7 separate regions of the Homo sapiens genome follow, and all the other regions are linked to region 1. Evidence: fine-mapped QTL for protein levels in blood plasma. Region 1 holds a variant in brackets. A gene starts in each other region. All regions are shown on their forward strands.

Region 1 (4,074 bases):
GGCCAGTGGCAGGGCTGGGATTTGAACAATACAGTCTGCAGGACACCAAAGGGGCTTGTGGCCTCAGTGTAGGGCAGCCTTTCTGAGAATCCCAGTAAACAGGGAACTGTCCAGAAGACCAGTGGCTAGAAGGAGAAAGAAGAAGGCCTAGAGCTAGAGATTTCACAGTAATATTAACTCATGATTAGGACTCATGTGTGCGTGTGTGTGTGTGTGGGGGGGGGGGGGGTGTTTTAGCCCTAGAAAACTAAGTATATCTGTAGCCTAGGGCCTTTCAGAACTCCAAGTTGCTGAGGCTTGTGACTCAGAGACACTGTTGCAGAGAGAGAAGGTGGTGGCTCCATCAACCAATGCTAAAGTGACTTCAGGCCCTGCCCCAAGTCAAAGCCCATTCCCCATAGTCCCTTTATCTGTAGGGATCACATCACACAGGGTCCTTTCTAGAATCCCAGGAACACCTCCATTTAGAATTTTCTGACTGTTGTCCCCATAAGCCTTCTAAATGTCCTGGAAAACAGCATGCCAACATTCAAATCCCAACTCCTTCAGGGAGCCTCCCCGTACAAAGGAACCCACAATGATTTGCTGGCCTTGAACTCACTTTGGGATGGGACATCAAGGTTCCTCTCTCCAGGGTTTGTGGCTCTCCTGTGACTATCTGTCTCTTCCCAGTGAGCCAAGGATGTTCACCTACTCAGAGGAGGGGCAGATGGGTGCAATTTGCCCTAAACTCCTTCCCAGAAGATGGTTAAGAAAACAGCTCATTCAGGCTGGGCATGCGTGGTGGCTCAAGCCTGTAATCCCAGCACTTTGGGAGGCTGAGGCGGGCAGATCACCTGAGGTCAGGAGTTCAAGATCAGCCTAGCCAACATGGTGAAACCCTGTCTCTACTAAAAGAAAAATACAAAAATTAGGTGGACATGGTGGCACATGCCTGTAGTCCCAGCTACTGGGGCTGAGGCAGGAGAATCGCTTGGACGTGGGAAACGGAGGTTGCAGTGAGCCAAGAGGGTGCCACTGCACTCCAGCCTGGGCAACAAAGCGAGACCCTGTCTCAAAAAAACAAAAACAAACAAACAAAAAAAAACCTCATTCAATTCCCTAGATAATTGAAGGCTTTCACTTGCAGGCTTTGGAAACAAATAGTTGTGAATTGAAACCTGTTTCTGTCTCTTACTGTATGGCTTTTATCAGTGATGAAAGCAATTCTTCAATCTCAGATGCCTAAACTATAAAATGGAAATCTATCTATAAGATCACAAGGTCGTGGCTAAGTTTAAAATAGAGAATTCATTTTTTAAAAACCTGTCAGTTGTAGTGTTTAAGCAGTATTAAGTTTTTGAGAGCTATCACCCTCAATGTCTTCTTCTCCTCACCATCATCATCCTCGCCACCTTCCGTGAGGGTTTAATATGAACCAGGCACTGTTCTATATACTTTACAAACAATCTTCACAAGAACCCTGGGGGATGGGGATCTATTGCTATCTATGGTTTACAGTGTGAGAAACTGAGGCCTAAGGTCACATGCCTGGCAGGTGGTAGGGCCTGGCTTAAAACCCAGGAGATCTAACCCCATAGACCATGCTGAGCACCTAGGCCACGCTGCCTTGGAGTCCCCAACCTCCTCCCCTATGTGTGCTGAGGGCCCCCGAGAACTCACAGTCATAACATCTGCATCACTGAGAGTTGGGAAGTGCAGCTGTGCGGCTCCTCTGTTAAGCCCGCGTGGACTCAGGGACGGAGGACACTGTTATCTTCTCTCCCTTAGAGTCTTGTATCATGTGAGATGTGGGGAGAGCCTTGTCACTGCTTTCCAGAGAAGCCCACGGAGGCTGGCAAGGGACTCCACCCCATCCCTCCCTGACACCCCCTGGAGAGAGGTGGGGGCATCTCCAGATGTCTCTGGTTCACGAGGATGAGCTTATGCCTCTGTTTCCCTTAGGGTGACTCTGGAGGCCCCCTGACCTGTGAGAAGGACGGCACCTACTACGTCTATGGGATAGTGAGCTGGGGCCTGGAGTGTG[G/A]GAAGAGGCCAGGGGTCTACACCCAAGTTACCAAATTCCTGAATTGGATCAAAGCCACCATCAAAAGTGAAAGTGGCTTCTAAGGTACTGTCTTCTGGACCTCAGAGCCCACTCTCCTTGGCACCCTGACACCGGGAGGCCTCATGGCCAACAATGGACACCTCCAGAGCCTCCAGGGGACCACACAGTAGACTATCCCTACTCTAAGCAGAGACAACTGCCACCCAGCCTGGGCCTTCCCAGACCAGCATTTGCACAATATCACCAGGCTTCTTCTGCCTCCCTTGGTAACCCAAGGAATGATGGAATCAACACAACATAGTATGTTTGCTTTCCTTACCCAATTGTACCTTCTAGAAAATCAGTGTTCACAGAGACTGCCTCCACCACAGGCATCCTGCAAATGCAGACTCCAGAATCCCCAGCATCAGCGGGAACCACCATCACATCTTTATTCCTCAGCCCAGACACTCGAGGCACTCAACAGAATCAGCCATCCACGTCTAGGTATCAGAGAGGACCACAAATACAACATTCTCCATCTGCTTTCAGAGTTATTATTTTAATAAAGGAAGATCTGGGATGGGCTGGTGGGCCATTCCAGCTTGCCGAAATCAAAGCCATCTGAAGCCTGTCTCTGGTGAACAAACTTCCTCTCTGGCCTCTCAGGAATCAGGGTGGACATGGCTCACAACAGCAGGGCCTTCTTCTTTTTGACGTGCAGAATCTCAGTGGCATCTGGGTTCACCTCCCCACTCTGATGATCTCCAGCCTCCACTGCTTCTGCCCCCCGCTGCTGAAATCAAACATACCCCAAGTTAAAATGAAGCTCCCCCACCCCCACTCCCGGCCCCGGTTCCCACAGGACACGCTAAGAAGCACAGGGAGCATTTAACAGGCTCACCCTCCCTTTCCTTTTCCCCTCTTCTACCCTCCCCAAGAAAAAGGGCCTTCAAGGCAGGAATGAGAAAGCAAAGCCAATCTCTCATTTAGACCTGGCTTCTTTCTTCTGAACAAAGTAGGGTTCAAAATGCAGACTGTCATATCCAGCGAGTCCCTGACCCTTTCTGCGAATGTAACGAGCAAGCAGTCAGCACAGCCTGGGCTGCCCTGGCCCGGGATTGATGTAGCCCCGGTAGGTTTGCCTCTGCAGAACTAATGGCTGTGACTTCAGAGAAAGCCCTGCAGGAAGTTTAACCTGCGTGTCATCTGCCTGGTCATCTCAGACCCATGAAATTAGGCGCCTTGTTTGAGCTGCGTTTCACACTTCTTTAGAGCTAGCTGACCTTTGGCCAAAAATAAACTTTGAAAAGAAACAATGAGTTTGTCTTTCCCCATGGCCTTGCAAGCCAGGGGTGGCTTTGCAGCTTGCTACTCACGTAAGCTCCCTGGAGACCCAGGCCCCTTGCGTTGGCCAGTTCCGCAGCCCGCCGAGCCATTTCCACTTTGTAGGAGCCAGGAGGGGTCCAGCCAACACCTCTGGTCAGGTTCAAGTCTGATTTATACTTGACCTTGAGGGTAAGAGGGAAGCAAGAGGAATATGTCAGCAGGGTTTGGAGCGGTTTGACCATTAAGTAAAGAAGATTAAAAAGGCAGCCACAGTATGAGACTATGTTGTCTGTCATCAGTAAAGCCAGAACAAGGGGAACAAATTTATCATAAGCAGCATCTCCCTGGCACAGGGGCCGCAATGTGCTGTGAGTCCAGCCGGCATGTTGCTGTCTCTTGCATCTTCCCATTCAAGTGACAAAAGTTACAGTTGGGAGTGGGTGGGGTAGTGACACCTGCTCCACACACTCTGTGGCCTTAGGGAAGCCACTTCCCTTCTCTGGGCTTCAGTTTCTTCCCAGAGAAAGTGCAAAGGCTGGGTTAATAGCTAAGATCCCTTGGAAACAGTTTAGCATAGCCATCGAGAGCTTGGGCCCTCACAGCAAACCAAAAGGGGTTGGTATCCCAGGTCTGCCACTTATTTGTTATGGGATCTTGAGTAAGTCACTGAACCTCTCTGAGCCTCAAGTTCCTCATCTGTAAAATGAAGCAGCCCTGGG
Region 2 (4,074 bases), not on the chromosome of region 1:
TATGCACTCACCTACAGGAGTCAAGATACACACAGGATTTTCTTACAAGAGATGTTTTAGGCAAGTGTGTTTGTAAAGAAAAATTTTGTTCACTGCACCCAATGTCCTCATTCGCCATAAACAGGAAAAACACGGAGACCCTCAGGTTTTTCTCTATTAAGCCAGATGCCCGCTAACTTCAGAGTCAACTGGCACTGCAATCCTCACACATTCCAGCTCCGGTATGTTACTGTTTGTGAACACAACAATTCTCTGCTCATTAACATTACAGGGGTCTCCAGCCATCTTTCCTTCACTTCTCCAAATTCATCTAAACGTGGCATAGAGCAAGACGCTCGAATGACGTTGGACAGCTTCCTTTTCACACCTGAGCCCCGGTAGCCCCACTAGGCAAAATGCAAACAGGAACCCCGGGCCTTGCTCCGCGCCCTTTGCTTCATGAAGCAACAGAAAGGCCACCTTCCTGGCTGTAAAGGCAGAAGCGCCTTCTTCCCCATAAACATCCTTGGGCAGCTCATCATTCCCCTCCTGCTCGTTCTTCTCCCTCTTCCCAGGCAGCCTGAGAAACAAAACTTAAACTGGACTTGTTGCCTAATCTAAATTAGGATCCCTCTGCTCTTCTCCGTAGCTCCATCTTCTCCCACACACCAGTTACTACAATGCGTAACTACAGATCTACACGTGTTTACGTGCAAGGTCCCCGGGGGCCTGTTCACCCTGGCACTGCCCAGGCGCCGCGCCTCGCGCTGCAGGTGTCCACGCGCGGACCACGGTATCTACCGCGCCCTCGTGTGAACACCCGACCGGGCCCCGTAATCACTCTGGGAAAGCGCCTTCAACAAAGCCCTCCGAAAGCAAGTGCTTTACTAAGTGCCCCTTGAGGCTACTGGCAGTGCGAGGCTGGCTGTCATTAGAACATTTTTCTGAACCCTCAAAAAGGTGAAAAAGCAGGACCGTGCTTTAGCAGGAACACGCACACCCGCCTAAATACCCGATTTTTGAGACTGTCCGGGCGAAGGAATTCAACGCATAGGAGCGAGCAGCCATGCAGTGTGCCTGGAGAATCACCAAACCGCGACGACCACGACCCTCAAAGCCAGTGACAAGCAGCGCGAATCTAAGCCCACCTCGGCCGCAGACCCTTCCCCGTCCCGCCAGGCCGCCGCGCCCTGTCAGCCTCCTACTGCAGGACCGCGGGGCCGCCTGCTCATCTGTCAGACGGGCGCTCGGAGGGGCCGGGAGCCAGGCTGCGGTGGGGCAGGACAAAGGCGCCCACGAACCCTCCCTGCCGCCGCCGCTCCACAGCCGCGCCGCGCCGCCAACATGGAGGGAAACGTCCGCAGTTTAAAACCCCCAGCTCCATTTCCGCAGCGGGCCCGGCTCGGGCGAGCTCCAGCCTCGCCCGCCGCCGCCCCGACCACCCGACTGGGCCAGAAAAGGCGAGGAGGGGAGGAGACGAGGAGGCGAGGAGAGGAGGGGAAGGCCGCCGCGCCAGGCCCCGCGCCCAGGGTCCCCGGCCCGGCCGCTGCGCCGGCCTCGGGCTTCCTCCCCCAGCGGCCCCTCGAAGAACGCGCCGCGGGGAGCTGGGAGCAGGGCGGGGGTGGAAGCACTCACCTGCGCCAGGTTCCGGCGGTGACACGGACGGCTCCCGGAGAATAGTCGCACAGCAACCCGGCGGCAGATCCACGCGCGCGACGCTACCCGGCCGCGCTCTCGCGCCCCGCAGTCCCGCAAGCCGGGCGCGCGCCTCCCCGGCCCCGCCTCGCGGCGCTTCTCCCCTCCCCTCGCCTCCCCTCCCCACCGGCGAGGCCGCCCGGGGCTCCCATTGGCTCCTCGACCTTTTGAATCATCCCCGGCGCTGTCGATTGGTCGCGCGCCGTGGCGCGTCCGCCCCGCCCCACCCTGCCTGGGGGCGGGGAGGCCGGTGAGCGGGGGAAACCGAGTCTGGCGGGGCGGCCCGGAGCGCGACGTTTGCCACCGCCTTATCTCAGCCGCCCAGGCGCCCTCGCAGCACACGGAGCCCGCGCGCTCCCGCCCTTTCCCTCCCAGCGCTCGCAGCAGTGTTTGGGGTGCCAGGTGGCTTGGCGAACGAGATTTTTTTTTAAGCTACAAAGAAAACTAATACATTCTTGAAGTGATCACCAAAGATCCGAGCTCGAAAGCGTTTCTCGGTAAAACACTATGAGTGCCCTCCTTAGCGTGTTAAAATCCCACAGAAGCCCCTGGACCAAGCAGCGGCATCGAAGGCGAGCAGGGGCGCTTTTGTGTCCGCGGCCGCTGAACCTGCGTAGAAGCGAACCCGGACCGATGCTGGGACCGGCGGCGGGAGGGAGGGGGAAGAATGGCCGAGGGCTCCTACGACTTACGCTGCGAGGAGGGGCTCGGTTGTTACCCGAGATGCTGTCGAGATGCAGTAGAAAATCCCCAACACCGCGGAGCGTGGAACAAGAAGTTTTATGCGTTACACACCGAAACACAACTTGACCTGCAACCTACAAGCCTGGTTTTAATTGAACCCCAAAATGCTGAGTCATGTCATTGTTGACTCCGAATCTGTTACGGATCCTAAGCTTTTTTTTTTCTGCTAGTTTTCATTATCGGTTAGTTGATTTCCTTCCTTTGAGGTCGAGAGTTTAAAGCAGTCCATTGAAGTTCCCTATTTTGCAGTGTGGTTTTAATCAAAGTATTTCTTAACACCCTAACTAGGTATATTTAAGTGAATTGCTATTTTGGAAGCATTATTAAATTGTAATAATGAATAGAACTTTTCATCTATAGCCTAGCTTCAGCTTTCATTTTCTCATAGAACTACAAAACACCCAGGTTTACTTCTTAAAAAAAAAAAAGTGAAAATACATCGAGTTTTCTCAGTCATTCACATGCAGTGTGAATGAGTTCATCAGAGCCTTTCCTGAGAAGTTCTGACATCAAATTGTCATTGCCATCGAATTTGCCCTTGGTGGAGATCTGTGCAACAGAAATGCACATCGCACTCCAAAGTCAGAAAATCTTTTATTTTTGACAAACCCCCAAGTCTCAATTGTCTTAACCCTTGACATAAGATAATATTAGTCCTACCTCATAGAGTTTTGCAGTAAATTACACAGAAATAAAAGCGCTTATGGGGACCTAAGACAGATCCTATCCCAAATAGCCAAGCAGTGAGTGCTACACTATTCTTTTCTCATATGTTCTACCCAGAATCAAGATTTCACTGGATTTCCCTTGAGGTGCACATTTCCTGGATGATTTCCACTTGTGAAATAGAAGAAGATTCGTTTCAAAAAAAAAAAAAAAAACACCTGGCCAGGCGCCGTGGCTCACGCCTATAATCCCAGCACTTTGGGAAGCCGAGGCGGTTGGATCACCTGAGCAGGAGTTCGAGACCAACTTGGCCAACATGGTGAAACCCCATCTCTACTAAAAAAATACAAAAATTAGCTGGGCACGGTGGCGAGCACCTGTAGTCCCAGCTACTCGGGAGGCTGAAGCAGAAGAATCGCTTGAACCTGGGAGGTGAAGGTTGCAATGAGCTGAGATCATGCCACTGCCACTCAGCCTGGGCAAGAAGAGCGAAACTCTGTCTCAAAAAATAAATAAAATAAATTTTTAAAAATTTTAAGAACCTTATTTTAAAGATCAGGTTTATAAAGTCTCATCATAACAAAATGAAGCCAAAACTTTGTAAATTAACTAGAGTTAGCTTAGCTAACATTTTACCTAATAAATTACTAATGACATTTTTAAAACAAAACTGATTTGACATCAGGAAAACTAAGCAATAATTTTTGTTCATTTCTACTTCGTGGACTCAAACATACCATGAACAATCAGATCTATATGTAGGCTGCTTTCTCAACAAAGGAACTGTTTGGTATTTTTCTCTTCTTTTTTAAGTCTACTAAAGGCTGTGTAAACTTGGAAGTGGGGAATTTTCAGAAAGTTCTCAGAAAGATGCTTGTCACTCACAACTAGCAAGTTGTGGGTTTTCAGAATCTATAAAGTAAAAGTCACTTAAAAGTCCGCATCTTGGCACCATTGTTGTTAATGAGGCCATGAGTGGCAAAGCCCCTT
Region 3 (4,000 bases), not on the chromosome of region 1:
GCTGAGGCAGGAGAATGGCGTGAACCTGGGAGGCGGAGCTTGCAGTGAGCCGAGATCGCGCCACTGCACTCCAGCCTGGGCGACAGAGCAAGACTCCGTCTCGGAAAAAAAAAAAAAATACTCCCCACAAATCTCCACGCTGACCCTGTGAGGTATTATTAATTAGTATGTCCCATTTTTTATATGTAAGAACAAAATGAATCTTGACCTTTCAGCTGAGAAGGCGAACTCAATGCTCATGCCCATACCACTGCACATTCTGCCTCCTGATGGTGATACCCATGAAGGATGTGGTGCTGGAATTTACTCAAGTCCCCAAAAGGAGGCACCCTATATTCCAGAAGAAATAGGTCCAAATCCTTATCAGACCAAAATTTCATCTTTATTTTTATTATTATTAGTTTTCTGAGACAGGCTCTCACTGCTCTGTTGCTCAGGCTGGAGTGCAGTGGCCCAATCTCGGCTCACTGCAACCTTTGCCTCCCGGGTTCAGTGATTCTCTTGCCTCAGCTCCTGAGTAGCTAGGATTACAGACGTGCACCACCACGCTCGGCTAAGTTTTGTATTTTTAATAGAGACAGGGTTTCGCCCTGTTGGCCAGACTGGTCTCGAACTCCTGACGTCATGTGATCTGCCCACCTCAACCTCCCAAAGTGCTGGGATTACAGGCATGAGCCACTGTGCCCAGCTTATTTTTATTTTTTGAGACACGGTCTTACTTTGTTGCCCAGGGTGGAGTTTAGTGGTGCAATCACAGCTCACTGCAGCCCCAAGTTCCAGAGCTCAAGCAATCCTCCCACCTCATCTTCCTGAGTAGCTGGGAGTACAAGCAAGAGCTACCTGGCTAATTTTTTTTTTTTTCCTGTAGAGGCAGAGTCTCACTATGTTGCCCAGGCTGGTCTTGAACTCCTGGCTGAAGTGATCCTCCTGCCTCAGCCTCCAAAAGTGCTGGGATTACAAGCTTGAGCCACCACGCCAGTCCCAGAATCTTTTTTTTTTTTTTTTTTTTTTTTTTTTTTGAGATGGAGACTTGCTCTGTCGCCCAGGCTGGAGTGCAGTGGCGCAACCTCGGCTTACTGCGACTTCCGCCTCCCAGGTTCAAGCAATTCTCCTGCCTCAGCCTCCCAGGGATCTATTAATGTTTAAGGACAAGTGGCAACTGTGGATGCCCAACATGGTTACTTAACAAGAAACCAATTTTTCAGAGGCCAAGAGTCCCAACAGGGCCGAGAATCTGGCCACTCGCCTATGGCTCTGGAGGTGGCATGACAAATAAGGGTGGCATGACAAATATAGGTTAACTGATTTGTTGCAGGGACCAGAGATCATAGATGGTGAAGTTAACTAAGGGCCTCCAAATCCGTGTCCTTTGTGCCAACAGGTGTGCCAGGCTGCTCACAAGACACCATGGTACGAGAAAGGATTTCTCGTAGTCACCTAGACACCAGGTTTATGGCTGTGTCGCAGCAAAGTTGGGTGTGACTTATGATTTTCGTTCTGAACCTTATTTGTTAGATAGGTCCTGGAGTCCTTAAAACACGCAGGTGAAAGTCAGGGAGTAGGAGCCATCAAAATTCGACTCTGGTGGGACTCGAACCCACAACCTTTGAATGACCACACTAGGCTCAGCTAGAAGTCCAATGCGCTATCCATTGCGCCACAGAGCCGGCTGCGGAACCCGGCCGCCCCGCTCACCTCTGCCTGAAACCGCCCTCTTAGCGAGCTTCTAGGTGTGGTGCTGGGTGTTTGCTGAACTCGGCCGGGGCCCGAGAGCGTGCTCCGGGTTTTCGGCTGTGGTGTGGACTGGGGTGCTCTTCCTACATCCGGGCGCTGGGGACAGCAGGGGGCAAGGGCCGGGGTCGGCAGGGAGGAAGGGCCGGGGTGAAGCCCGCCTGTCTCCTCGCGGACTCGGGGGTCTCCTCGGCTGGGTGGGGCCGCGCGGCGTGGACTACAACTCCCAGCGTGCCGCGCGGCGGCGCCGCCCGAAGCCGTTGCGCGAGCAGGGCGGGCTGGGGCCGAGCGGCGTCAGGCGCGCTGGGGCTGCGCTGCGCCGCCGGCTCTGTGGCTTGCCGGCTTCGGGGAAGGTGCGGCAGGCGGTGCTGCGGCCTGGCACAGCAGGTTTGGGGTGCGGGAGGCGGGCGGGGTAGGAGCGCGGCGGGCGGGGCCGGGCGGCGGGCGGGGCTGGCGGGGCGGCCGGGCCATGCAGGGCGCAGAGCCGGCTAAACCCTGCTGAGACCCGGCTCCGTGCGTCCAGGGGCGGCTAATGCCCCTCACGCTGTCTACGCTGCTGCAACCGGGCCGCATCTGGACGGGGCGCCGCGCGGCGGAGCCGACGCCGGGTGAGCATAGACCGGGCTGGTGGGTTCCCGGGTGGGGACATGTGCCAGGCCGAGTCGGGCGAGGTGGCGGTGCGGACCCCAGGTGGGGGGCGCGCCCTGCGGCGCTATTTCCCCGACAGACGCACTGTTACCTTGCTGTCTAGGGGCGAGGGCGGCACGCGTGACCCGGGACAGGGGCCCGAGGGAACTAGTCACCCTCTTCTGGCCTCTTCTTGCCCCAGCCTTCCAGGACAGGTTCCTGCCCCTCTGCTATGGCGGGCTATGGGAGGCCAGAGATCTGAGGACCCTGGACCCTGGCGTTGGGGTTGAGGACTCTGGTTCAGTTCCCCCGCCCCCGGCTTTTGCTTTTCGCGAGGGGGAGGGGGAGATGGTCTCCCAGGGCTTCTTGTGGTCCAGACCATTCCCTTTTCCTGGCTTGGAGGCTCTCAGGCCATTTCACATTTGTGACCTTCATCTACTCCCAAGAACAGGAAAACTCGGAGAAAAACAGTCCCATCAGATGTCCCCTTGATCGAGTCCTCAAAGCTCCAGGAATAGAACCCAAGAGTCCTAGCTCAACCCAGCCCCTGAAGCACAGTCAAGTCATTCGCCTTCCCCTAAGCCCTAGACCCCAAAGATTCATCCGAGTGGCTGTGTGTGTCTGTGTGATGGGTGGTGGTGTCTTCAAGGTCCTCCTCGCCTCCCTCAATCAGCTTTGCCCCCTGGGCGGTCACCTTTCAAGCACTTCCAGGCTCTAACTCGTTTTCTGGGTCGCCCTCTATAGACCAACAGACGCACTGCGATACCTGAGTCTATGGGCAGGGACCAAGCAGGGCTCCTTTTCCAGGGAGCTGCCCCTTTGACTTGGCCTGGTCATCCACAGAACCTCCCTGGGTTCTGGGTGGGGAGTCGAGCCAGAGACTTTTTTTTTCTTTTTTTGAGACGGAGTCTCGCTCTGTCTCCCAGGCTGGAGTGCAGTGGCACAATCTCGGCTCAATGGAACCTCCGCCTCCCGGGTTCAAGCAATTCTTCTGCCTCAGCCTCCTGAGTAGCTGGGGTTACAGGTGTGTGCCACCATGCCTGGCTAATTTTTGTATTTTTAGTAGAGACAGGGTTTCACCATCTTGGTCAGGGTGGTCTCGAACTCCTGACGTCATGATCCGCCTGCCTCGGCCTCCCAAAGTGCTGGGATTACAGGTGTGAGCCACCACTGCCAGCGAGCCAGAGGCTCTTAAGTCAGTACCCACCCCCAGGCCATCCGGTTTTAGGGACCCTGGATGTCAGAAGAGTGAACTGTCATGTTTTGGCTAGAAAAGCCTCTTAGAACACGTCTCAGGACAACTCGGTGGTGGCCACTGCGCAGACCAGACTTCGCTCGTTCTCGCATGCCTCGCTCCGCTTTTCCTCCGCAACCATGTCTGACAAACCCGATATGGCTGAGATTGAGAAATTCGATAAGTCGAAACTGAAGAAGACAGAGATGCAAGAGAAAAATCCACTGCCTTCCAAAGAAACGATTGAACAGGAGAAGCAAGCAAGCGAATCGTAATGAGGCGTGCACCGCCAATATGCATTGTACATTCCACAAGTATTGCCTTCTTATTTTACTTCTTTTAGCTGTTTAACTTTGTAAGATGCAAAGAGGTTGGATCAAGTTTAAATGACTATGCTGCCCCTTTCAC
Region 4 (4,074 bases), not on the chromosome of region 1:
ACCAGGCACTATTCCAGGAACTGGGAATTTACAAAGCAAAGTAGTAGGCAAGGTCTCCACCTTTGTGCTTTACATGCCACTGTTGGGGCTCAGAAAGTGATACCAGGACAACTGGTGCTTTGACATGATGAGAGGCCTTAGGAGCTGCCTCAGAGTCAAGGTCCCTGTAAGCTTGTCTTGTTCCCCCGACAAGCACAGGGAGAGACGCTCTCTGGAATTTCCTTATCTGACCAAGAACACTTCTTTACAAAAGAAATGCAATTGTGTTAAGTCTTTTTTTCCTTTGAGACAGAGTCTCGCTCTTGTCACCCAGGCTGGAGTGCAGTGGCACTATCTTGGCTCACTGCAACCTCCTCCTCCTCCCGGGTTCAAGCGATTCTCCTGCCTCAGCCTCCCAAAGTGCTGGGATTACAGGTGTGAGCCACCGCGCCCGGCCAGTGTTAAGCCCTTTTTCTAGTAATCTCATCAAATATCCAGGAAAGATCAACCACTGGAGAGAGAAAGAGACTGGGAGTCATCACCAGACCCAGACAGATTTACCTGTTCTTCTGAGGACAGTGCCAAGAGATTACCTGGGGGACTTTATCTGCCTAGGACAACCTTTGTCCCTGTGCGGCTCCACCTCCACCTTCCCTTAAAGTCGGCCTTTCACCTCCAGGGCCATTCCTTCTTGCTAATGATTTACTGTCTTTCAAAAGAATTGTCTGCATTCCCTATCTCCCTTCTCCCCTATAAAAAAGGCTGGGTAGCCTCTGTACTCCACTGGGTTACAGGGTCACCATTCTTCCGTGATTACCCCATTACAATACATTTTTGTATGTCTTTTCTCCTCTTAACCTGACTTTTGTCGGTTGGTTTTCGGGGAACCTTCAGAGGAAGAAGGGGAATTTTTTTCAAGGCCCCTTAGCTCACCCTTGGGAGGATGATCCTTTCCAATACAATCTCAGAAGTGCCTCTGGGCTGTAGTGGCCCTAGGCTGAATTCCAGGAAGTTTTTTTTTTTTTTTTTTGTTTTTTTTTTTTTTTGAGGGACAGCGTCTTGTTCTGTTGCCCAGGTTAGAATACAGTAGCGTGGTCACAGCTCACTCCAGCCTCTACATCCCAGGCTCAAGTGAACCTCCAGCCTCAGCCTCCCAAGTAGCTGGGACCACAGGCATGTGCCACCATGCCCAGCTAATTTATTTTATATTTTGTAGAGACAGGGTCTCCCTATGTTGCCCAGGCCAGTCTCGAACTCAAAGCAATCTTCCCACCTCGACTGGGCTCAAAGCGCTCTTCCCACCTCAACCTCCCAAAGTACTGGGACTACAGGTGTGAGCTACCATGCCAGGCCTGAAAGCCATCTTAAAAAAAAAATCTTAGAATGAGAATCACAGTATTGGGAAAGGACTGTATGAATCATCTGGTCCATTCGTTTTGTCCTCTGGGTTCACCCAGTGACCCTATTTCCCCCGAGTTCTAAGGAGTCCACCTCATGCAGAATTGATTCAATAGGCGATCAGCAAGGGCCAGCTCTGCTCTGGGCCCTGAGCAGGCACTGAGTATAAGTCAGACCTGAATGTGCCTGGAAGAGTGTCCCACGCATTCCAGCAGGGAAGCAGTTTGTATGACAGGTGTCCCAGTCCAGGCGGATACCAGGTGCTGCCAGAGTGTGGAGGAGGCAGGCGGGGACTTAGTCTCCTCCCTGGGTTTGGACACTGGCATCCTGCTTTATGTGTGACACCACTGCACCCCTCTGAGCCTCGGTTTCCCCATCTGTAAAATAGAAGCGATCTACCCTCACAGGTCAGTTGTAGGGATGAACCATGAAAATACTAGAGTCTCTGTTTTTTGACAGGAACTCAAAAAACAGATCCTAAATGTACATTTAAAGAGGGTGTGAGGAGGCAAGCAGTCAGCAGAGGATTCCAGCAGGTGACATTTTAGGGAGCTGGAGACAGCAGAGCCTGGGGTTGCTAAGTTCCTGATGTTGCCCACCAGGCTATTGCTCTGAGCAGCGCTGCCTCCCAGCTTTCTGGAACCTTCTGGGACGCCTGGGGTGCATCAAGTCCCAAGGGGACAGGGAGCAGAAGGGGGGGCTCTGGAAGGAGCAAAATCACACCCAGAGCCTGCAGCTTCTCAGATTTCCTTAAAGGTTTTGTGTGTGTGTGTGTGTGTGTGTGTGTGTGTATGTGTGTGTGTGTGTGTGTGTGTGTGTGTTTTCTCTAAAAGTCCTATGGCCAGACTTTGTTTCCCAAGGGTCATATGACTGCTCCTCTCCACCCCACACTGGCCCGGGGCGGGCTGGGCGCGGGCCCCTGCGGGTGTTGCAACGCCCGGCCAGAAAGTGGGCATCAGCTGTTCCGCCTGGCCCACGTGACCCGCCGAGCATAAATGTGACCGGCCGCGGCTCCGGCAGTCAACGCCTGCCTCCTCTCGAGCGTCCTCAGCGCAGCCGCCGCCCGCGGAGCCAGCACGAACGAGCCCAGCACCGGCCGGATGGAGCGTCCGCAACCCGACAGGCAAGCGCGGGGCGCGGGACGCGGGACGGGCGCCTTTCTCTCCCAACCCTGCTTGCGTCCTAGCCCCACCCCGGGACACTGCCACACAGCGACAGAGCCCAGGAGCCAGAAACTTGGGCTCTGGAGTCAGGAGGTGCGGGGTTCTGATCCTGCCTGTGCCCGTAGGGTAGTTGGAGGGAGGAACGGTAATTTACATGCCTGGCACCCTGGTATGCGGTTGGTGACCAAGATGGGAGTGTCCCTAGAGTATCCAGTCTTTGAGGTAGCCAATTTTTTTTTTAATCCTACTTTCGAGGTGTGTTTGGAGTTGCTCTCTGCTGAATCTAGATCTCTGGGGCTCTGCCAGCCTGGGGGAGCATGCTTGGTTCTCTTGGTGGCATCTGTCCCTCACTAGCTACGGAGGACCTGAGCCAGACATCACCCTGGCTGCGGTGTTCCATGTCTCACAGATAGCCCAGTTCAGGGAGGCGACATGCCCAAGAGTGCTCAGTTAGCTGGTGTCAGAACTGGGCCTTGAACCTTGGTCTGCCCACCTCCAGGTCTCACTCATTCCCTTCTTTCAATAATTTGTTAGTATTTTTTTTTTTAACTCCTGGGCTTAAGCATCCTCCCACCTCAGCCTCCAGAGTAGCTGGGACTTACAGACATGTGCCATTTCTCCTGAGACTTTGACCAGCTGTGTTGTAGAACAGGGAAGCAGGGCAGGAGAAAAGGGAAAAATGACAATTCTGTGGGGAGGCAGGGATACGGACCCATGACAGAAATACTCCCAGAAAGACTTTTTCTTTGACTAAAGCAGACTTTCTCAGGCTTTTTAACCCTGACGCCTTCATGATGAGCATAACATGATAGGGGGTCATGAGATTTGCATCTGGAACTTTAACAAAATAACTGAATTAAATATTGGGTCTAAAAGCCAATCAAAGCAATTACAAACTTGGAGATGCCGGTTCATGGGGCTGCTGCTTCTTCCTGGGTTATGCTGTACCTCCTCCTCCTCTCCACTGCGAACTACCTGTACCAGGATTTCCCCCTTGGTTTGGGGGACTGTATTATTTAGTGTTTTAATGACTGAAGAGTGTTTACAAAGCTGCGAGAGCCACCATGCCCAGCCTGAATTTGTTTTTTGTTTTTTGTTTTTTTGTTTTTTTGCTTTTTTGCTTTTCTTTTTTTGAGATGGAGTGTTGCTCTGTTGCCCAGGCTGGAGTGCAGTGGCGCGATCTCGGCTCACTGCAACCTCTGCCTCCTGGGTTCAAGCGATTCTCCTGCCTCAGCCTCCCAAGTAGTTGGGATTACAGGCGCCCACTACCATGCCCGGCTATTTTTTTTTTTTTTTTTGTATTTTTAGTAGAGATAGGGTTTCACCATGTTGGCCAGGCTGGGCTCAAACTCCTGGCCTCAGGTGATCTGCCCGCCTCAGCCTCCCAAAGTGCTAGGATTACAGGCGTGAGCCACCATGCCTGGCCCTTTTTTTCTTTTTTTTTCTTTTTTTGAGATGGAGTCTCTCTGTCACCAAGTCTGGAGTGCAGTGGTGTGATCTCAGCTCACTGCAACCTCTGCCTCCGGGATTCAAG
Region 5 (4,074 bases), not on the chromosome of region 1:
AAGGCAACCTGACCAACCTGCTCATGGGTGCTTTAAGGATCATAGGTACGAGAATCAGCTGGAGTTGTTGGTGAAAATGCAGATTCCGGGTCTCATCCCTAGACCAAAGATATCTGAATCATTTGGCGATGGGTCCAGGAACCTGCATTATTCAACACACTTCCCAGGTGACCGTAAATGTCAAAAGACAAAATTACAACAAACTTAAACATCTTAATTGGCTTCATTCATGATTCTAGAATCGGGCAAGACTTCATTCCTCAAAATAGCACAAGTGTCCCAATGAGCTGAGCAGAGGAGGTTGGTTTTATAGACAGAAAAGGGCTGAAAAAAGCAGAAACAAAGAACAAAAAGCAGATTGGTCATTTCAAAGTTACTTTCCTTGTAAGGCAGGAACAGGGAAACAGAACAAGAGAGAAATAACTGATTGGTCGCATCGGGTTACTTCAGGTTACTTTTTGTTGTAAGGATTAAAGCAAAGGGAACTTCATTATGTTGATTAAAACGGTCTGCTTGGGAAATCAGGGTGTGTATCTCTCTTCTGATTTTGTGAAAGGTTATCAGTCTGATGATGTAGAACTTTAGCATGAGTGACTCCATTTTGATTTTTAGTCTAGTCTGTTGAGACCCTAATGCCAGAACTTTTTTTGTTTGTTTGTTTCGCTCTTGTTGCCCAGGCTGGAGTGCAGTGGAGCTATCTTGGCTCACTGCAACCTCTGCCTCCAGGGTTCAAGCGATTCTCCTGCCTCAGCCTCCCAAGTAGCTGGGATTACAGGCATGCGCCACCACGCCCGGCTAATTTTTTTTTTTTTTTTTTTTTTTAGCAGAAACCGAGTTTCACCATGTTGGTCAGGCTGGTCTCGGACTCTTGACCTCAGGTGATCCACCTGCGTCGGTCTCCCAAAGTGCTGGGATTACAGGTGTGAGCCACCACACCCAGCCCTTTTTTTTCAAGACAGGGTCTCTCTCTGCCACCCAAGGTGGAGTGCAGTGGCGCCAAAACAGCTCACTGCAGCTTCCACCTCCTGGGCTCAGGTGATCTTCCTGCCTCAGCCTCCCCAGCAGCTGGGCCCCACCACACCGGCTAATTTTTTAACTTTTAGTAGTGACGAGGTCTGATTCTGTTACCCAGGCTGGTCTGGAACTCCTGGCCTCAAGACATCCGCCTGCCTCTGCCTCCCAAAGTGCTGGGATTACAGATGTAAGCCACCGCGCCTGGGCTCCTATGATTTTTATTTAACATAATGCACCATGGAATTTGTGCTCTGCTTAGTTCAGTCTGAGCAGGAGTTCCTTGATACTTCGGGAAACACTGAAAATCATTCCATCCCCATCCATTCATTCCTGCAGCACCCAAGTGGAAATTCTGCGTTTCAGACAGGGACACTACCCTTAGAGAGCAGTGGGCTTCCCCAGCAGCGTAGTGAAACATGATACTCCTGAGTTTCATGAAAAAAGGGCAGACATCTGGCCAGAGCTGGGAGGCAGGAAATAGAGCACGGTGCCCTCCTCCCATACTCCAGCTTGGATTACTGAGGCTGGGGCCCAGGCCCTGCAGGAAAGGAGGTGCATGACTACTTTAAGGCCACTCACTCTGTGACTCAACGGGCCGGGTCGGGGCTGGAACTCAATGCCCTCCCGGGCCTGGAGAGCCCACGCGCCGTGGGCGGGGCTCCCGGGGTCGCCTAGGCAACAGGCGCGCGCCGCGCCCGAGCCCAGAGCCCCAAAGCGGAGGAGGGAACGCGCGCTATTAGATATCTCGCGGTGCTGGGGCCACTTCCCCTAGCACCGCCCCCGGCTCCTCCCCGCGGAAGTGCTTGTCGAAATTCTCGATCGCTGATTGGTCCTTCTGCTTCAGGGGCGGAGCCCCTGGCAGGCGTGATGCGTAGTTCCGGCTGCCGGTTGACATGAAGAAGCAGCAGCGGCTAGGGCGGCGGTAGCTGCAGGGGTCGGGGATTGCAGCGGGCCTCGGGGCTAAGAGCGCGACGCGGCCTAGAGCGGCAGACGGCGCAGTGGGCCGAGAAGGAGGCGCAGCAGCCGCCCTGGCCCGTCATGGAGATGGAAAAGGAGTTCGAGCAGATCGACAAGTCCGGGAGCTGGGCGGCCATTTACCAGGTGCGGGAGCGCCCCGGAGCGTGGCGGGCCCTTCGCTTAGGCCGCTTGAACATCCCCTCAGACCTCCAGGCCCCAGACTCCCTCTGGGTCTTGCCCTCTGCCTCGCTCCTACTGCTTGAGGATTCGATGGGACAGCGACGCACTGCGTCCCCCCACCCTTTGTCCCCGGGGCGGGCGTGTTTCTCGCCGCAGCGTCGGAGCCCCCTTCGATCCCCCACCTCCCTTCTGTTCTCCAGCTCGGGTGATCTCTCAAGCCGGGGGACCGCCGGTCTGTGCTCTCAACGCGAATCCCTCGCACCCCGACCCCGCCCCCTGCCTGTCCACTCTTTGTCCCCTGGGGTGATTTAGCACCCCCACTATTTCCTTTTCTGGAGTGGACCACCTCAGACTCTCTTCCTTTGTCTCCCTGGGGGAAAAGGTTACTCCCCCCGTCCCTCCTTCACATTTCCTTTCCCCTAGTCTCAGTGTGCGTCGAGTCCCAGAGATGACAGTCCCCTTTCCCCTTTCTGTTCATTCATTTATTGGATAGGAGTTGGCAAGCTTATTCTGTGCTAGGCACCGCTTAGGCATTGGAGGTGGTGTTTGCTAATCAGGACAGGCAAGATCCTAGCCTTAGTGGGGCCTAGAGTCGAATAGGGCAATCAAACACAAAAGCAAATAATTTCAGATAGTGACAGGTGCTGTGAAGAGAACGACTTCCTAACGGGGTACAGGGTGACTGCATAGAAGGCCGGCTGTCTTAGAGAAGGGGATCAGGGAAGGCCTGTCAAAGGAGGAGACATTTGCTTTGTGAGCTGAACCAAGAGGAGCAGAAAGCCGTGAGAATATGGGGCTAAAGAACCTTCTAGCCAGGAGGCCTGCGGTACCCACTCCATTGGGGCCATGATATTATTCTTTCAGGCAGGGACTCAGGAAGGTTAACGTTTTAACCCTCTCTAAAATAGCATCTTTCCTCAATGAGCAGCTTAGTCTTTGGTCGTGGCAGAGATGACCTTGTCTTAGGAGTCATCTCCTTGTGTGTTAAAAAGTTAGGAAAGGAGGGTTTCTCATATATCTATAAAACAAGTAGTTAAAAACACAAAGAGCTCTTCCTTTCACAAGCAGCTGAATAAGATACATACTCCCAATTAAATGTCATTGCGGGGGTTGTTAAGATTAACTAAAACCACACTTGCACAGTATCTTAAATAAGCGATATACAGAATAGAGAGATTTTGTTACTTGTGTAAAGGGAGACAGCAGATGATTCTGTTTTCAGCTTATAGGCTCAAAAGGCAAATTGTGAGATCCATCAGCTGTAGTATTAAAATCTATTTTGAGCTCCGCTTAGAAAGGAAAAAAGGTTTAAGCAGTTCTTTGGTATGCTTGACTAACAAAAGCCTTTTTTTTTGGCAGCCTTGATTTTCATGTGGATTTACATCAAGCTTATTTGACAGGATTCTTTTTATTTGGACTGTAGTGTGTATATTAGTTTCTGCTAGACTAATATTTCTAACCACTGTAATCTATATACTAATAAGTATGATTGATCAGTATATAAAATTTGTATGCCATATCTGGTCTCTGAATTAGCTGAATGAATTCCATAAGGGACTTTGAGACTGTGTAGACAAATTTTCTGCATCAGTTTAATGCAGTAGAGTCTAAAATGTCTTTAAATGAAAATTGTTGGTCTGAAGTGTTGGAGTTGATTATGATACACCCCATCACAGTGGAAGCATTGTGGAGAGAAGTCTTTTCCACTGAAATTGACTGAGTTGACAACAAGAAATACGTATTGTAACTTAGTTCTTAGTTGAATTTTATTTCTTACAATTTTAAGCCAGAGTGGGTTGACCTGTCACCCAAGCATGGTTAAAATTGTATTCAGCATGCAACTAGCATGGAGTGTGTCAGTCTTCAATTCATTTCCTTCATTGTTCTTAAGTTTTTCTGCCACAATTAAACCCCACAAGTTAG
Region 6 (4,074 bases), not on the chromosome of region 1:
CTTTGAAATACTTCCTGTGCAGGAAGGGTTGACACAGGACATAGTGAAAACAAAGGACAACCGAGGCACAGAAAACACCATATTGCAAAGAGACCATCTAAAGACACCTCCCGGGCTCCAAGCAAGAATATAAAAACACAACATTTGGAAAGCAATGATGGATCACCTCATGCAAAATCTGGAATGCCAACTTCTGCAAAGAGGCACTGGAGTAGCACATATGGTAACATGGAAAGAAGATTTAAACTTAGTTGGGACAAAAATACTTTGGCTTTTCACTAACCTACATTTAGACTTTCTTCCTGGATAATTTATATTTTCTTCTCCTTTTGTTACATTTAAGCATAAAGCTAAATTCAGACTAGAATTATTTCCGGGGTTAAAAAAGAAACTTCATAAACCTCCTCTAAATCCAGAAATAAGGGTTTAGAGAAGATTTAATGATCTGGTGTATACTGCATTGCCTTTTAAAAAATAACCGATACTAGGGGAAAAAAAATTCTAAGTGCCATCTGAATGAGCCCAATTTAACTCAATACTAGAAACTGAGAGGAATGCATCTTACATTCTCCACCTCTTCAAACCCAACTTCAGATCTCTTCCTTTAGTAGCAAGACACTCACCTTTCCTGGCCAAGGAGGATATCGGCCGAGTTTCCCCCTAGAGAAAACACAAAGAGTCAACACTTGCCCTGCAAAAGCCAGTCCATCTCCTTCAACCCACTCAATACGCAATTTATTTTCCTAAATCTCTGCTGGCATCCTCAAATGCCGAAACAAAAGCTTTCATAGCTGGGCCCAACACCCTCAGAAGTAAAATGCAAAATTGTATACTTATGTGCACAACGCATATCCATTCTTCTGTTGACAAGGAATACAGAACAACACAACTGTCAAAAGTCACTTGTCTAGAGCTTCTTAATGACGGGGGTGGGAGGACAGCTTCCTCTGTAAACACAGACTTTCCCTCCCTAAGTCTGGTTTAATTCAACAGGAGACCTGCCTGGCTTTGACAAATGCTAATGGAAGCCTTCCTCTGGGTGGAGAAACAAGCTACGCAGCTCGAGGGAGGCGGCGACAAAGTCTTGGTTCGGGCGGTTGTCTGGGACACAGAAGCAGACCGCGGGAGGCACCCAAGCGTGCACTGGTCACTGCCAAGCCATCGGTTGTAAAGGAGAAGTCCCCCCGCCGTTTCTTCGCGGGGCAACGCCAGCAGTCCGGTTTAGACAACCCCGGCTGAGCCGGCCGCACAGGTCGGCTGCATCGCAACCTGGGCTTTGACCGAATGGCACCGGCCAGATCTCGCAGGTCCGGTCCCCGGCGCTTCTGCTTTCTGGGAAGCCCCAACAAGACCCCGGGGACCGGTCGTCCGGGGAAGCCTCGCGGCACCGGCGGCTCCCTTCACGGGGGCCGCCAGTATCTGGGCCCCGAGTGCAGACCCCACCCGGCCGGCCTCGGGGATCAAAGCCGGTGCCCGACGTGGCCACCCTCGGCCTCGGTCCCCCGGGACTGGACTGCCCCTTCCGCCTGGCGCCGCTCGCAAGCGCCGGCACCTTCTCTTCCCCTCTCTCCGCGACCTGGAGCGCATAAAAAGGCAGCTCCAGGGCCGGCAGCGAACCCCGCGCCCAGGCGGGTAGCTCCCCGGCGCGTCTCGGTTGGCCCGGCCGCTCGGACTCACCACACCAAGTCGCCGAGCCGCAGACTCACAGCCGCCATCTTACCACCCAACCACCGCCGACGCACGGGCCGCCGGGAACAGCAAGTCGCCCCGGCGCCGCCCATTGGAGTGGGCCCGACCACGTGACGGGGGCCGGCTGTCACTGGCCACGCCGCTACTCTGACGTCACCGCGCCCGCCGGGGATCATTGGTCGACCGAGGGGCACGTGACGCGAGCGCCGCGGTCTCCGCGCGCCGGAGCGCAGAGACTCCCGGCTCCTTCCCCCTCCCTTCGGCTCGTGACAACGAAGCGCCCGCGGTCTGAGGCGGCGGCGGCGGCGACGGTGCGACCGGCTGAGCGCGAGAGGGAGCCGGCCTCGCGGCTCGCCCCGCCCCCGGGTCTTGGACTCCGCGCCCCTCCCCTCTCGGCGCTTCCGTTACGCCCGTTGGTCCGGCGCGGGCCCCGGGGCCATTCCCGAGCCCGAGGCGCTGGTCGGCCCCGTCGCAGCGCCAGTGAGCTACCCTGACGGAGCTCGGCGCGGCCTGGAACTCAGCCTCCGCCGGGTCTGGGCTCCCGCGCCCGGCAACTCTGCTTGGCCGCAGGCCGGGAGGCCCCGGTGTCCGCGCCCGTCCGCTCCCGCCGCCCGTGTTCTTTGGAGCGCTCCTCCCGACGGCCGCTTTCGGAGGCGCCGTCTGAGCGCGGGGTCCCGCGCCGCAAGTTCTCCTGGGGCGACCGGAGGCTGCTCCCCCGACCCCCTGGTGTCCCCGGAGTGGCTGCGCGGACGTCGAGTTGGCATTTCTTCGCTTCCTCCTGGGCCGGCGCGCGGCGCGGCACACCAGGCTCCCCTGGGCTCGGGGACCCGGCCATGGGCCGAGGCGCGGGCCGCCCGCCCGCTGGGAGCCACGGCTTAGCAGCCGACCGCTAGCTGCGCCGCCGCCCGGGGACCGGCATGAGGACCGCCGCGGGGGGACGTCTGCGGCCCGCGTCGGCGCTGGGGACAAAGGTGCGTGTCGTTGTCGGGTCCGGGCTCTCTCGTTAGCCTTGCCCTAGTTTTGCACTTTTGAAAAAGTTGTGACAACAGGAAGACAGATGCCGGGCGTAGTTTGGACACTTTAAAACTGAACCATGAACTGGGAAGTGTTAACTGCAGTTGAGCGCAGCGTCGGCCCAAACTTCAGCAGACCAGGTAGAATCACAATTTTGCAAAAGATCCCAGTCCCGATCACAGACTCCACAGTGTTAAGGATTGACTTAGACTTGGTGTCGGGCTCTTGTTGAGTCACTGCCAGCTGGCAAAGGTGGCGAGTCGACACGCATTTCCCCAAGGCATTGTGGTGGTTAGAGATTTCGGTTGCAAGTCGGTGTTTAGCGTACTGGGTCGTCCCGCAGCCTGATTTTTCTTGGGAGATCAGTTTCCCTGAAGTACCAAGAATTAGCTGCACGGACTGTCATTTACTGCGTGTGTATTTTTAAGACAAAGTGATCTTTAAAGCGTATTTAAGATTCCAGGGAATAATTTGATAAAAATTTAACATAAGTTCCTGTTTAAAAATTCTGAATTTGTGAGGAATTGAATGAGATTTTAATAACTTAAATAAAAACATGAATCTTGGCCGGGCAGGGTGGTATAAGCCTGTAATCCCAGCATTTTGGGATGCCGAGGCGGGTGGACCACCTGAGATCAGGAGTTCGAGACCAGCCTGGCCAACACGGTCAAACCCAGTACTCTACTAAAAATACAAAATTAGCCGGGCGTGGTGGCGCATGCCTGTAGTCCCAGCTACTTGGGAGGCTGAGGCAGGAGAATCGCTTAACCCGGGAAGCGGAGGTTGCCGTGAGCCGAGATTATGTCACTGCACTCCAGCTAGGCGACAGAGCGAGCGAGACTCGTCCCCCCGCCAAAAAGAAAAAAGAAAAAAAAATCTCAAATGAACATTGCACCAAAACCTAGAGGCATTCCCCTTAACATCAGAAACATGGTACATTTCTACCACTATTAGATAATAAGAATATATTGCCTAAAACCTGAAAGTTCTAGCCAGTGCAGTAAGACAGGAAACAAAAATAAGAAATGCAATTTTTGGAAAAGGGAAGACAGAATTCTCATTTCCGTGGATGATAGGTCTGCCTATTTTGAAAACAAAAACAAAAACCAAAAAACCCATTAAAATAAGAATTCAGGAAGGGTACTCATTATAAGTTGGAATGCACAATTTAGTTTTTCTGTTTCATCAATAACCAGTTTGAAAATACAATGTTTAGAAGGAGATATATATATATATAGTAAGAAAAAATTAAAAATTGCTGAGGATAACCAAGGGACAAGGAAGGCTAGTATTTTCTCAGTAACACCAACTGAGGTTTTTAAAGGGGGATCTTTGTTTTTTTCTTTTTTTTGTTTGAGACGGAGTTTCACT
Region 7 (4,074 bases), not on the chromosome of region 1:
AGGACCCTTTGGCTCAGATTCTGCATTCTCTTTCCAGGCCTGGCTCTCCTCTGTTGGAATGTGTCTGTAAGAATCCTTCGACTCTGCAGTGCTGCTGGTGCTATTCAGGACATCTTCAGCTTCAGAAGTTCCTTGGATGACAGGCACCATAACCCTTAACCCACTTGGTAATCTCTCATTTTTGGTCTGTCTCCTCTTGAGGGCCAAGGCTGTATCATACTCCTCTCTACATGCCCAGACCTTAATTCAGGGCACAGGAAATGTCTTCAGAATGAACTGATGAATAGCATGAGCTAGGGCTGTGCTCCAGACCCACCAGTCTTGCCTTTGAGAAGCTCACAGTTAAGAGAAGAACATGAATATCTAAATTAATAAACTGCAGGATCAGGTAATAGGTAGCCATAATTACCTAAATATTAGCAGCATGTTATATGTGCCTAGAGAACAAATGAATAATTCATTAAGGTGGATGGATGGCATGGGATGCCATGCTAGAGGAGTACATTAAGAGCTGTTAAAGCTAAATTGTGTCCCCCCAAAAATTTCTGTGTTGAAGTCCTAACCCCCATTACCTCAGAACATGACCATACTTGGAGACAGGGTCTTTACAGAAGTAATGAAGTGAAAACAAGGTCATGAGGGTAGGCCCTAATCCAATATGATGTATAAGAATAGACAATTAGGACACAGACGCATACAGAGGGAAGAGGGAAGACGGCGTGAGGACACAAAAGCGGGGCCATCTGCAAGCCAAGGAGAGAGGCCTCAGAAGAAACCAACTCTGCCAACACCTCGTGAGAAAATACAATTTTTCTTTTCTTTTTCCTTCCTTCCTTCTTTTTTTCTTTCTTCTCTCTCTCTCTTTCTTTCTTTATGAGACAGAGTCTCACTCTGTCACTTGGAGTGCAGTGGCCCGATCTTGGCTCACTACATCCTCTGCCTCCCGGGCTCAAGCGATCCTCCCACCTCAGCGTCCCTAATAGCTGGGACCAAAGGCACACACCGCAAAGCCTGGCTAATTTTTGTATTTTTTGTAGAGACAAGGTGAGCAAATAAATTTCTGTTAAGCCACCCAGTCTCTGGTACTTTGTTATGGCAGCCCTAACAAACAAATACAGGAGCAGATTATGAGAATTTACTAAACCAAACCACAGAAATTAAATTTTATCCTTTCAGCTGCCAGAAGCCCACAGAGGTGTCTAAGCATCAACGTGACAAATAAGCAGCTTTGGTTCTGCAATATAACCTGGAAATAGTGAGGACACCGACGTGGAGAATAGAGATGGGAGTTGACAGGGATCAATTGTTCTAATGCGGAATAATGCAAGACATAAGATCAAGCCAGCAGGAGTGAGAAACAGAGATCATATCAGGGTGATATCTGTGGGGCAAAAGTAACAAGAAGATAAGGTGTAGGCGGTGGAGGGTAAACCGCGAGGCTTCCATGAAGAAGAGTGGCCTGGGAAGTGAGGAGGACAGCGAAGCCCCAAACCTCACCTTGGGATACGGGAAGTGAAGCAGGTTCCAGAGAAGGGGACAAGATAATGACTTAGGGTAGGATAAATTTCAGACAATTGCAGAGCATCACATTAGATGTGTTCAGAAGAGTGGAAATAAAGTTCTGTGCCTAGGCCCTCATGCAGGATTCTGTTGCTAGAAGTCAGTGCTGGCCGCAGGGAGACCGGAGATCACAGTGGAGGCACCAGCGATCCGAGAGTCCTATGACGAATCCCTGGGATCCCCACAATGTGTGGAGACAGAAGCCAACCAAAGAGCGAGAAAGCATCTCCAAACCAGCAGAATCAGGGGCAGGAGGCCCGCCAAATGCACAGCAAGTCAGCCTTGGTAGTTTGCAAATGGAAAGATTTCTTTGACCCGCTGGAGACTTCAGCTCAGGCTGGATGTCGCTAATTCACACCATCTCACCAAAAGGTTCTTTCCCTGCCCTTTGGTGAATCGAGGCAGAAGTGGCTGGTGGATAACTGGGACCCAAGAGTTATCTCAGCGTCGGGCAGGCATCGACAGCTCCAGGAGCCCTTTCCCTGCAGGCGGGCTGGCGGGTGAGCGATTCCCTCCCTTCCCAGGCCTTCCCGGGAATGGAACGTGGGCGCCCGCGCCCGGGCTCCGGTTCCACTTGGAACGCGGACTCGGGAGCCGCCGGGCGAGCGCGCAGACCGCGGGGGCGGCTCCCTCGCACCTCCCCGCTCAGCGCGCCGCGGCGGATGGGCGAGGCGGGGCGAGGCCAGAGGGAGGCGGGCCAAAGGGGCGGGCGAGAGGACGCGGGACCGCGGGGAGGTCGGGGGCGGGGAGCAGGCGGCGGCGGGCGCCGGGAAGAAAGGAACATGGCTCCTGAGGCGCACAGCGCCGAGCGCGGCGCCGCGCACCCGCGCGCCGGACGCCAGTGACCGCGATGGTGAACTCCAGTCGCGTGCAGCCTCAGCAGCCCGGGGACGCCAAGCGGCCGCCCGCGCCCCGCGCGCCGGACCCGGGCCGGCTGATGGCTGGCTGCGCGGCCGTGGGCGCCAGCCTCGCCGCCCCGGGCGGCCTCTGCGAGCAGCGGGGCCTGGAGATCGAGATGCAGCGCATCCGGCAGGCGGCCGCGCGGGACCCCCCGGCCGGAGCCGCGGCCTCCCCTTCTCCTCCGCTCTCGTCGTGCTCCCGGCAGGCGTGGAGCCGCGATAACCCCGGCTTCGAGGCCGAGGAGGAGGAGGAGGAGGTGGAAGGGGAAGAAGGCGGAATGGTGGTGGAGATGGACGTAGAGTGGCGCCCGGGCAGCCGGAGGTCGGCCGCCTCCTCGGCCGTGAGCTCCGTGGGCGCGCGGAGCCGGGGGCTTGGGGGCTACCACGGCGCGGGCCACCCGAGCGGGAGGCGGCGCCGGCGAGAGGACCAGGGCCCGCCGTGCCCCAGCCCAGTCGGCGGCGGGGACCCGCTGCATCGCCACCTCCCCCTGGAAGGGCAGCCGCCCCGAGTGGCCTGGGCGGAGAGGCTGGTTCGCGGGCTGCGAGGTAAGAGCGCGCGACCCGCAGCGGCAGATGCACGAACCAGAACGGCCGGCGCCGGCCGGGGCCATCGCCCGCTGCGGCAGCTCCCCGGGCTCCATCTCGCATCCCCTCTGCGTTCCGCCTCCCTTGGAAGCGCATTCCCCACCTCCGCTAGTGCTGCCCTATTTCCGGTACCCAGCGCGGAATTCCACTGCTCTTTTGTTGGTGCATATTTATTGGATACCTCCTTCTTCAGGATATGTCACCATAGTCTTTTTTACTGAAAATTAGTGAAAGCCTAATTAGAGTGAAAGAGTACATCTGGGTTTTGTTTTTTTTTTTCTTGTAGAGGAAAAAATGAACATTACTTGTGTAACTGATGGTAGTTGCAACTGCATATTTGCCAATGTCACAAAATCTAAAGGAAAATGTTATAGTCACCCGTGGTTTCCTTCTTGCCTGGACACTCCATTGTCCCGGGCTGAAAAGGGTAGCAGTACAGTGCATATAATGTCAAGTTGTGGGAGGAGTGTGGCAGATTGTCATTGGTGCATTTTTTTGGTGATGTGTGTGGTTGTTTTGAGGAGTGGGAGCTGTTAAGAACACCACAAATAGAATAAAATAATATCGTGAAGTTATTTGGCCGTTTCTAATTCTAGACATTTTTCTAAAAACAGTTGCAAAGGAAAGATTACATTGTTTTAAAAAAATTTGAAGTATGTTTTTAAATAACTAAATTAATGTTCTTTGAAATTCCACCAAAATGATGAAGTCACCAGATAGCAGCTGATAAATGTGTCTGAGCCCAGTGCGCCCAGCTCTACAAAAGGCAGAAGAGGAATTTTCAAATTTGCCAGTGCCCAGTAAGAGGACATGAATTTTCTAGTACCAGAGGAAATTCTCTTTTTACAAATTTTGTCAGAGGTATCCTTGGGAAAGTATTTCATTTGCTTTTACCCTCCAAATTATTTTAATCTATATTTTTAAGAGTTTCCATTCTCAGTTGAGTTTTTCTTGTTCTTCTCCTTCTGTCAGTTTTGAAAGTCTTGCACAAAAACAATCCAGGTGTTGTTACAGCAGTGTGATTAAAACC

Which allele goes with the higher level. Positions count from the first base shown, and alleles are read on the strand shown. Strength reflects both the effect of a copy and how common the allele is.
For the plasma level of the protein whose gene starts at base 1,699 in region 2, A is the low allele of the variant in region 1 and G is the other (moderate association).
In carriers of allele G in region 1, the plasma level of the protein whose gene starts at base 2,028 in region 3 tends to be higher than with A alone (weak association).
In carriers of allele A in region 1, the plasma level of the protein whose gene starts at base 2,400 in region 4 tends to be higher than with G alone (moderate association).
For the plasma level of the protein whose gene starts at base 1,908 in region 5, G is the high allele of the variant in region 1 and A is the other (weak association).
For the plasma level of the protein whose gene starts at base 1,738 in region 6, A is the low allele of the variant in region 1 and G is the other (moderate association).
For the plasma level of the protein whose gene starts at base 2,312 in region 7, allele A in region 1 goes with a lower level than allele G (moderate association).

The links. PIP is the chance, under the fine-mapping model, that this variant and not a neighbour inherited with it causes the effect. Protein levels are from antibody-based Olink assays in UK Biobank. Linkage for the fine-mapping came from a reference panel and not from the study's own genotypes, which makes the PIPs less certain.
Region 2: it holds the start of LBR, and the variant in region 1 is fine-mapped to the plasma level of the LBR protein (UK Biobank, PIP above 0.99).
Region 3: SLC27A4 starts here. The variant in region 1 is fine-mapped to the plasma level of the SLC27A4 protein (UK Biobank, PIP above 0.99).
Region 4: it holds the start of HMOX1, and the variant in region 1 is fine-mapped to the plasma level of the HMOX1 protein (UK Biobank, PIP above 0.99).
Region 5: it holds the start of PTPN1, and the variant in region 1 is fine-mapped to the plasma level of the PTPN1 protein (UK Biobank, PIP above 0.99).
Region 6: it holds the start of GLYR1, and the variant in region 1 is fine-mapped to the plasma level of the GLYR1 protein (UK Biobank, PIP above 0.99).
Region 7: it holds the start of PKD2, and the variant in region 1 is fine-mapped to the plasma level of the PKD2 protein (UK Biobank, PIP above 0.99).

The regions. Positions count from the first base shown.
Region 1 is chr10:113,586,261-113,590,334 of GRCh38, forward strand. HABP2 (hyaluronan binding protein 2) reads left to right here. Exons shown (of 13, transcript NM_004132.5): 13 at 1,945-3,342. The coding sequence ends at 2,109. NRAP (nebulin related anchoring protein) reads right to left here. Exons shown (of 42, transcript NM_198060.4): 41 at 3,406-3,537; 42 at 2,454-2,819. The coding sequence ends at 2,715. Among named protein-coding and RNA genes, the nearest start is that of HABP2, 35 kb to the left of the region's middle. The variant G/A (reference allele first, on the strand shown) is at 2,027.
Region 2 is chr1:225,426,340-225,430,413 of GRCh38, forward strand. It overlaps LBR (lamin B receptor), which reads right to left and starts at 1,699. Exons shown (of 14, transcript NM_002296.4): 1 at 1,615-1,699. RefSeq lists enhancers at 109-781, 782-1,453 and a silencer at 1,286-2,115.
Region 3 is chr9:128,338,500-128,342,499 of GRCh38, forward strand. SLC27A4 (solute carrier family 27 member 4) reads left to right here and starts at 2,028. Exons shown (of 13, transcript NM_005094.4): 1 at 2,028-2,339. TRR-TCT3-1 (tRNA-Arg (anticodon TCT) 3-1) reads right to left here and starts at 1,667; the gene lies at 1,577-1,667. It also overlaps the pseudogene TMSB4XP4. RefSeq lists silencers at 1,405-2,046, 1,675-2,084, 2,155-2,554 and an enhancer at 3,191-3,370.
Region 4 is chr22:35,378,697-35,382,770 of GRCh38, forward strand. It overlaps HMOX1 (heme oxygenase 1), which reads left to right and starts at 2,400. Exons shown (of 5, transcript NM_002133.3): 1 at 2,400-2,500. The coding sequence starts at 2,478. RefSeq lists silencers at 2,121-2,200, 2,501-2,670.
Region 5 is chr20:50,508,476-50,512,549 of GRCh38, forward strand. PTPN1 (protein tyrosine phosphatase non-receptor type 1) reads left to right here and starts at 1,908. Exons shown (of 10, transcript NM_002827.4): 1 at 1,908-2,115. The coding sequence starts at 2,053. RefSeq lists enhancers at 1,082-1,669, 1,882-1,981 and a silencer at 1,542-1,771.
Region 6 is chr16:4,845,551-4,849,624 of GRCh38, forward strand. It overlaps GLYR1 (glyoxylate reductase 1 homolog), which reads right to left and starts at 1,738. Exons shown (of 16, transcript NM_032569.4): 1 at 1,678-1,738; 2 at 624-660. The coding sequence starts at 1,715. UBN1 (ubinuclein 1) reads left to right here and starts at 1,931. Exons shown (of 18, transcript NM_001079514.3): 1 at 1,931-2,660. RefSeq lists enhancers at 1,182-1,241, 1,542-1,601, 1,897-2,739 and silencers at 1,792-2,511, 2,522-2,611.
Region 7 is chr4:88,005,324-88,009,397 of GRCh38, forward strand. PKD2 (polycystin 2, transient receptor potential cation channel) reads left to right here and starts at 2,312. Exons shown (of 15, transcript NM_000297.4): 1 at 2,312-3,005. The coding sequence starts at 2,411. RefSeq lists silencers at 2,075-3,004, 3,055-3,194.